Linked DNA regions of Homo sapiens. The main gene of each other region encodes a partner of the protein of the gene in region 2 in a complex. Each region holds a gene or a part of one and is shown on either strand. Other genes may lie near its edges. The genes, in order: TMEM17 and TMEM231.

What was found.
Region 1: TMEM231 (region 2) and TMEM17 share a complex: the UniProt entries of both Homo sapiens proteins name them as parts of the tectonic-like complex.

What each region holds. Positions count from the first base shown.
Region 1 is NC_000002.12:62,499,647-62,503,449, forward strand, and holds the end of TMEM17 (transmembrane protein 17), read right to left. Parts: intron 3,149-3,803; coding exon 3,045-3,148; intron 2,905-3,044; coding exon 2,791-2,904; intron 1,842-2,790; coding exon 1,563-1,841; 3' UTR 572-1,562; downstream 1-571. UniProt on the Homo sapiens protein: Transmembrane component of the tectonic-like complex, a complex localized at the transition zone of primary cilia and acting as a barrier that prevents diffusion of transmembrane proteins between the cilia and plasma membranes.
Region 2 is NC_000016.10:75,545,961-75,549,785, forward strand, and holds part of TMEM231 (transmembrane protein 231), read right to left. Parts: intron 118-3,825; exon of another isoform or gene 1-117. UniProt on the Homo sapiens protein: Transmembrane component of the tectonic-like complex, a complex localized at the transition zone of primary cilia and acting as a barrier that prevents diffusion of transmembrane proteins between the cilia and plasma membranes.

The DNA.
Region 1 (3,803 bases), on a different chromosome or scaffold from region 2:
CAAACAACAATGAATAAGGCAAAACCTGGGAATCCTAAGATAAGCATGAATTGTAGAAAAAGAAAATTGAAAAGAGCAGTTTTTAATGCAGCTACAACTGTCCCTCAGTAAAATACATTATGAAGGCCCATTTCCCTATAGAAAAAAAGAAAACCTGTAATGAACATATCATATCCATTAAGACAGTCCAACAGTCACTTAAATATAATGTTCAGATACACCCAAGCAACTTTGTTCTTAACCAATTCTCCTAAAATAGATTTCTCCTATTAGCAAGGGAGCATGCTCATTTAGGATCATGAGTATAGTCCCTTTGGCCATCTTAGCTCTCATATGTATTAAGAGGCGCTCTGGTTTCCAAATCAAGCCTCACGTGAATTTAATGGGTATGAAGCAGTTCTTTGGTGAACAAGAACCTAGTAGATGCAATCACAAGTGCTAATTTAAAATGCCTACTACAGTGCCCACTACATAGAAAGTTCTCTAGGATTTGTTTTCCTTCCTTCTCTTGCAACTCTGTAATAAAAAACACAAATCTATAGCCCAAAATAATTGCACAAGACAAGGATGATTTGCTGCTGATACCTTAAATATTTAATAATTTATTGTAAAAGCATTTTGTATACCACCATTACAAATACTGAATATGGTTTTATGAAAGTTGTAATTTTATAACAAAAATATTTCCTAAATACCAAGGCAATCCACCTGTTTTCTTCTTCATCTCAGTATAACAGCTAATATTAGGGTTAGAATTTAACCCTAGCAGACATGAAAATTTGGTCTCTTGTTTTATTTTTTATTTATTTATTTTTTTGAGATGGAGTCTTGCTCTGTCACCCAGGATGGAGTACAGTGGCTTGATCTCGGCTCACTGCAAGCTCTGCCTCCTGGGTTCACACCATTCTCCTGCCTCAGCCTCCCAAGTAGCTGGGACTACAGGTGCCTGCAACCACGCCTAGCTAATTTTTTTTTTTTTTGTATTTTTAGTAGAGGCTGGGTTTCACCGTGTTAGCCAGGATGGTCTCGATCTTCTGACCTCATGATCTGCCCACCTCGGCCTCCCAAAGTGCTGGGATTACAGGCGTGAGCCACCACACCCAGCCGGTCTCTTGGTTTACAAATATAGACAAATACATAGGAACACTGACTGGTATTTCCATGTCAAGAAACATGGTCATATGTACAGACAAGACATGGATAACCAACAAGTTTTAAAGAAATGTATACATCTCTAGTTAAAGATTCTAACCAGAAATGCTACGAGAGAGCTGGCAAATGACAACCACCAATACATAGATTTCTACACTCCTGAAAAAGACAACAACATCAAAAAAAATTAAGAAATTTGGCATCAGGTGGACAACATCTAGGTTTTAGGGTTAATATACTGTTTCATATACTGTACAAAGTTTCATCATTGCCCCCAACCTTGGAATTTCAGAGTGAGAGCATATACAATTCAAAACACTTGCTTTGTCCCTTTTCTCAGAGCTCTGATATTTTCCTAACTCTTACAGTCTCTAGAATGATCTGTCAGATTTTCACTCAACAACACTGGATCAGATCTCTTCTATACATGACCTCATCCTTCTCATGTCTCCTCTGTTTGCAGAGAGCCGGTCAAAGTCTTGGAGGTGGAAACGAACTGCCAACTGATTAACCATTTTCCTTAAGGTAAGAAATGCTGCAACAACTTGGAAAGCAAGGAAGAGAGTGAAGATGATATGTATCGCTTTTTCCAAGGGCAGATTTGTTAGGCCTTCATTAAAGAGCAAGAAAAGAATTAAAGGTAACTGCAATAGAAGGCTCAAAAGCCAAAAGCCAGCCAACTCAGGAACCTGCAATGACACATATCAAGAGTAATAAAAATCAGTAAAATACAGTTTCTGTTTATACAGATAAACAAGTACTTATCACTACCGTGAACCTACATTATGGGCTCTGTGAGTGATTCCAAAGGAGGATGACATGGTCCTTGTCCTCAGAGAACTTACAGTCTAGATGAGAAAACTAATTCATGTAAAACAATCCTAGAATACTACACTTTAGTGAACAATTAAGTGCAATATTTAGAAGTACAGACTAAATGCTACAAGAAATAAGGGAGTGATTAGGGTAGGTGAAAGAAAGACCTCAGGGAGGTAGGCTTTTTAAGTTGTGGAGAAGAAGGAAGAGGCAAAAAGGTAAGTAAGCAAACACGTGAAATTAGCATGATTGGGAATCAGCACATCAGCCTGGAATGGATGGCTGAGTGAGAAAACAGCAAAACCTACAGTAAGACAGGCTGGGTGGGGCCTTATTATGAAGGGCCTAGAAAACCACGGGAATCTTTAGGCATTATCCCTATACTCTGGTAACCACAAATGCTTAGGCAGCATGATGATGCAGAAAACATGGGCCTGGCATAGGAAATGAATTCATAATTTTCCCCCATTTTCTTATTCAGGATCCAAATACACATGTTTAAGTAACCATGTATTTTCAAGACTGATAAGAAGAGGGAAAATATCAATTTTAAGTGTTTACTACATTCATATACTTTACATAAATCATTTCACTTAATCACAACAAACCTGTGAAGTAAATATTATTTTCCTCATTTTATATATGAGGAAACCAGGGCTCAAGAGATTAAGCAAACAGACCACAGTGACAGAAGTGGTAAAGCTGGAGTCAGGCTTTAAATTCAGGCCTGTGCTCTTTCTGCCACACCTCACTGCCTTTTACTTGTTATGAAAACTGATTTCATTTATATCTATCACTGAGAGAAAGGAAAAAAGAGCTTACCTTCTCCTGTAGGTTACCCACGTAGCCCAGATACAACCGGATGGCTTCAATTAAGGTTATTAGGATGATAACAGTGATCACAATGAATTTGTAGTAGTCAGGTAAGATTGAATACTAAAAGAAAAGCCAAAACATGTTTGTAAAATCTCATGTATAGTAACATTGATTTAAGATAGAAAAAATTATTAAGAACTTGAATTTTATTGACACTCTAACAACGTCAGGGCAGCAAAAGTATTAAAGCTTAGATTTACCTTCATGTGAAGCATCATAATGCTGCTCACCCACCACAGTGGGAAATAGTAGGTATTAAAATAAAGTGACATCTGCAGTGCCAAACTGGAGACCATTTCATTTTCTACAGAAGGAACAGAAAAGGAACAAATGATGAATCTTGGGTTTATGCCCTATATATATATATCCTATTCCCTAGAATTAATAACTATAATATTGGCTCAGTAAAACACCAAATTTTATGCCTATTTATAATCATTGACAGTAAAAGGAATATTCATCCTAATACCAGTTAGGTCAAATATTGGCTATTTGGGGGTACGTTTCATATTTTTCAATTATTTTACCATTTTGCCATTACAGTCTTCTGACTTTTTGGCATATACTACTGGTATAGATTTAATGTAGAATATCAACATAAATCCTATTCAACAGATAATTATCATTGCCTCTTTTGTAGAATTCTATGTAAATAGCATATAAAATTAATGCATAAAATAAATAAAAATGAATCTCCCACAGATAAACTAATCTTATACAAAAACGGATTACCAAGGTTATAATTAGACACATCTCTCTTTTCAGCATACCCTAATCTTAGCCATTCTTTAAAGTCCAATTCAGTGTCATCTTTTCCATCAATACTTCCTTCATCAGTTCCCCCACCTCAGCAGAAATACCTTTCCCCTTTAGGTACTTACCACTCTAAACTGTCAATAAGAAGTGCTAGCAAAGAACCACACTCCCCTCCCCAAAAAACAGTCTGGTGTACTGAACAG
Region 2 (3,825 bases):
AACCCAAACAGGCCCAGCAGCCCTGGTCACTAATGAGTCTGGGAGGAATCCACATCACTTCTGTAAATACACAATGACCCACTGTCTTGCTGTACACAACAGGCATTATCTCCTCCACTAAAAGAGAAAAGCAGATAGATGTAAGTGCATTAATACTGGGGAGAGACACAAAGTGCATGGTCCCTGAACTTCATATCTGGGCCTTTCAAATGTTCACTGGCCAAAATAAATGGGCAATAACAAAAAACATCTGGATAGTATTTGTGCCTTTCAGTTGTCTCATGTGATCTTGCTTATTTTGCACTGATATTTTTTTCTTTTTTACAAATATGCCTGAATTTGTATGGAAATTTTAAGTAGCATGTCAGAATAGTCTTCTATGTCTCTAGAAGTCAACTTGTTAAAATAGAAAAACACCTAATCCTAATCATTATGCATTCCTCCAACAAACTCAAACTCAACAGAAAATCACCAAGCTCTATTTTTTTTTGTTTTTTTTTGAGCCGGGGTCTAACTCTATCGCCCAGGCTGGAGTGCAGTGACGCAATCACGGCTCACTACAACCTCCGCCTCCCAGGGTCAAGGAATTGTCCTGCCTCAGCCTCCTGAGGAGCTGGGATTACAAGTGCCCACCACCATGCCCAGCTAATTTTTTTATTTTTAGTAGAGACTGGGTCTCACCATGTTGGCCAGGCTGATCTTGAACTCCTGACCTCGGGTGATCCGCCCACCTCAGGCTCCCAAAGTGCTAGGATTATAGGCGTGAGCCACCGCACCCGGCCTTACCAAACTCTGTTTATAGATTCTGAAACCACGAGTGTCTTTGCTTCAGATTCTTGATGTTGGATCTTATCTCATCATTCGTGTGAGGACCTGAAAGCCTTGTGCATCTTTTAGTAGCAATCAATGAAATGAAAAAGGAAGCTATGTCAAATCAGCAAAGTATTAAAACCATATCTATTTGATAAATTACGGGCATGAAAGGAAAGAAGACAGAGGTCTGTAGAGGAAAAAAGACAAAATACAGCTTATGAAGCATATGTAGGCAGTGAAAAAAAACTGGTATCCACTCCTACCATCCACAGTCTTGCCAAACAGTGATGCTAAAATGATGATCAGGAAAGCACGGTTACTGAAAAGTGATCACTGCTGACATGGTCCCTCTGCACAACTCTGGATCTTTTTGCTACAACTGATCCTTTCCCACTGTGGATTCCCAGAACAATTCTACTATCGTGTAGCAGCATTCCCATCTGGATCCACCATCTATGGATTCATTTTGATTCCCACCATTACTATTACGTAAGGAAGAGATTTTTTGTGTGTGTGCTTTTTCAGGCTAATAATAAGGTCATTTGAAATGAAGAAATCTCAATTTTCAGAAACTTTCAATTATTTCTTTCTTTCTAGACAATAATGTTCCTTCTCTTAGGTCTTGTTTTAGAGAAACCTCCCTCCCTTTTCTCTTGGATACTTCCTCTCTGCCCTGTTTCATCAGCTTCGGGGAGGGATATCTGCTACCAGGGCTGATGATCAAGTTACTGAGGCAATGATGGACTAGTCATTATAGGTAGGATGAAAAGAGCCTGCCTTGCGGATCATGAGGTCAGAAGATCGAGACCATCCTGGCCAACATGGTGAAACCCCGTCTCTACTAAAAATACAAAAATTAGCTGGGAGTGGTGGCACGTGCCTGTAATCCCAGCTACTCAGGAGGCTGAGGCAGGAGAATCGCTTGAACCAGGGAGTTGGAGGTTGCAGTGAGCCAAGATCTTGCCACTGCACTCCAGCCTGGTGACAGAGCGAGACTCCATCTCAAAAAAATAAAATAAAAAATAAATAAAAGAGCCTGCCTTGTCTCCTGTGGATTTTCTTCAATTGGGATCTGGGTAGAAAATCTTATGTAACTCTCTGTGATGGATCCACACCTTCTAGATCTTTAGGGTTGGACAGGAAGAAAAGAGCACATTTCTCAACTTGCAACAGAGGATAGTGGCCAGGAGACAACTGCCAGAAGAATCCAGACTCCAACACACTGTGGGAGGGGGAAAAGCTCATTTCCTTTGATCTTTACAATAAATGTAAAGCCCCAGGCAGGCAGAACAGGTATTTTCCCATTACACAGATGACAAAATCAAGGATGAGTGAGATTAGGGCATTTATCAGAGGTACAGCAAGTAATGGTGAAGACAGGATTTGAGATCAGGTGACTTCAAATCTGGTCCTCTTTTTAGGACCAAAATGTCTAAAATTATTTTAAAAATTCCAAATGAAGACAGCAGGTTGGACAAATCTTCCTGAAAAACAGCAGCACCAGGCATCTACGTCTGTATACTTGCCTGTGCACATCCTTCCATTCCAAGTTCGCGGGGGACAGATTTGGCACAACACCATCAATAGTGTCTACTTGTTAAATTCACTCATTGATCTGTTACGTACTTTTTGGAAACACGCCAGGCACTATTTCAAATAATGAGACTATAATGGTAAACAAAATAGACAAAGTCCCCATCCTAATGGGGCATACATTCCCGATGGACAATGTAGAAAACAGTGACAAGTGCCGCTGACAGAAATGAAGCAGGCTAAAATTAGAGAATAATGAAGGTAAAATTTAACAGAAATTGGCCAGGCGTGGTGGCTTATGCCTATAATCCCAGCACTTTGGGAGGCCCAGGTGGGTGGATTGCTTGGGCTCAGGAGTTCGAGAGCAGCCTGGGCAACATGGCGATACCCTGCCTCTATTAAAAATACAAAAATTAGCTAGGCATGGTGGCGTGCACCTGTAATCCCAGCTACTAGGGAGGCTGAGGCAGGAGAATCGCTTGAACCCAGAAGGTGGAGGTTGCAGTGAGCCGAGATCGTGCCTCTGCACTCCAGCCTGGTGACAGAGCAAGACTCTATCTCAAACAAACAACAAAAAAACCCAAAAAGAATTTAACAGAAATTTTTAAATATTCAGGATGACCCAACTTGTTGGAGTCCTGAAGGAAGTGAAGTGATGGGGTGCAGGAACATCTCAGAGAGGAGGGATCCAGGCTAATCAGGTACATGTGCTCTGGGTACCCGTGGGATCAATGCATCTGGCAGAGTGGGTGAGAAGGAGAGCAGGGTGGAGAGAGGGGGGAGAGAAGTTTCGATGGAAAGGATGTGTCTCCCACAAATGACCTGTCACCAAGCTGGACTCTCACCCTCCTGGGGCTGGCGAAGTTTGGCTGTGCTCCTCTGTTATCACTTGGACCACTGAATAAATCAATTATTTAATTCCATTTAGTTGAAAGTAAGTTTAACATATGTGCAATAGCTAACAAAGGCAGGCATTCAAAGGCTACTACTTCTTTAACACAAATTCTAGGTCGCTATCTAACCTCCAACTGGTACTTAGCCAAGAGAATTCACATATCACACCACCACCTTATATCTACAACGTATATACAGGCTTTGGAACAATTTTTATATCCATTCATTGTCCCACGTGATTCCTCTGCATATCCCAGGAGAGATGTGGGTACTCTCATGCCCTGTATATGGATAGATAAATTGAGGGTGAGGTTATGAAACCCAGTGACAGAATTGGGACTAGGACCTTGTGGGACAAGGATCTTGGTTTGCTGACTCCTGATTCAGGGCTCTTCTATAATAGCTCATAAGAACTCTAACTGAAAAGATTTCTCATGGTTAAAGGAGGATAACCCTTTAGAGATACACATGAAATCCACACGCATGTACTGAGCAGAGTCAGAGGGAATTTTTTTGTTTTTTTTTTGAGACGAAGTCTTACTCTGTTGCCCAGGCTGGAGTGCAGTGGCACAATCGCCACTCACC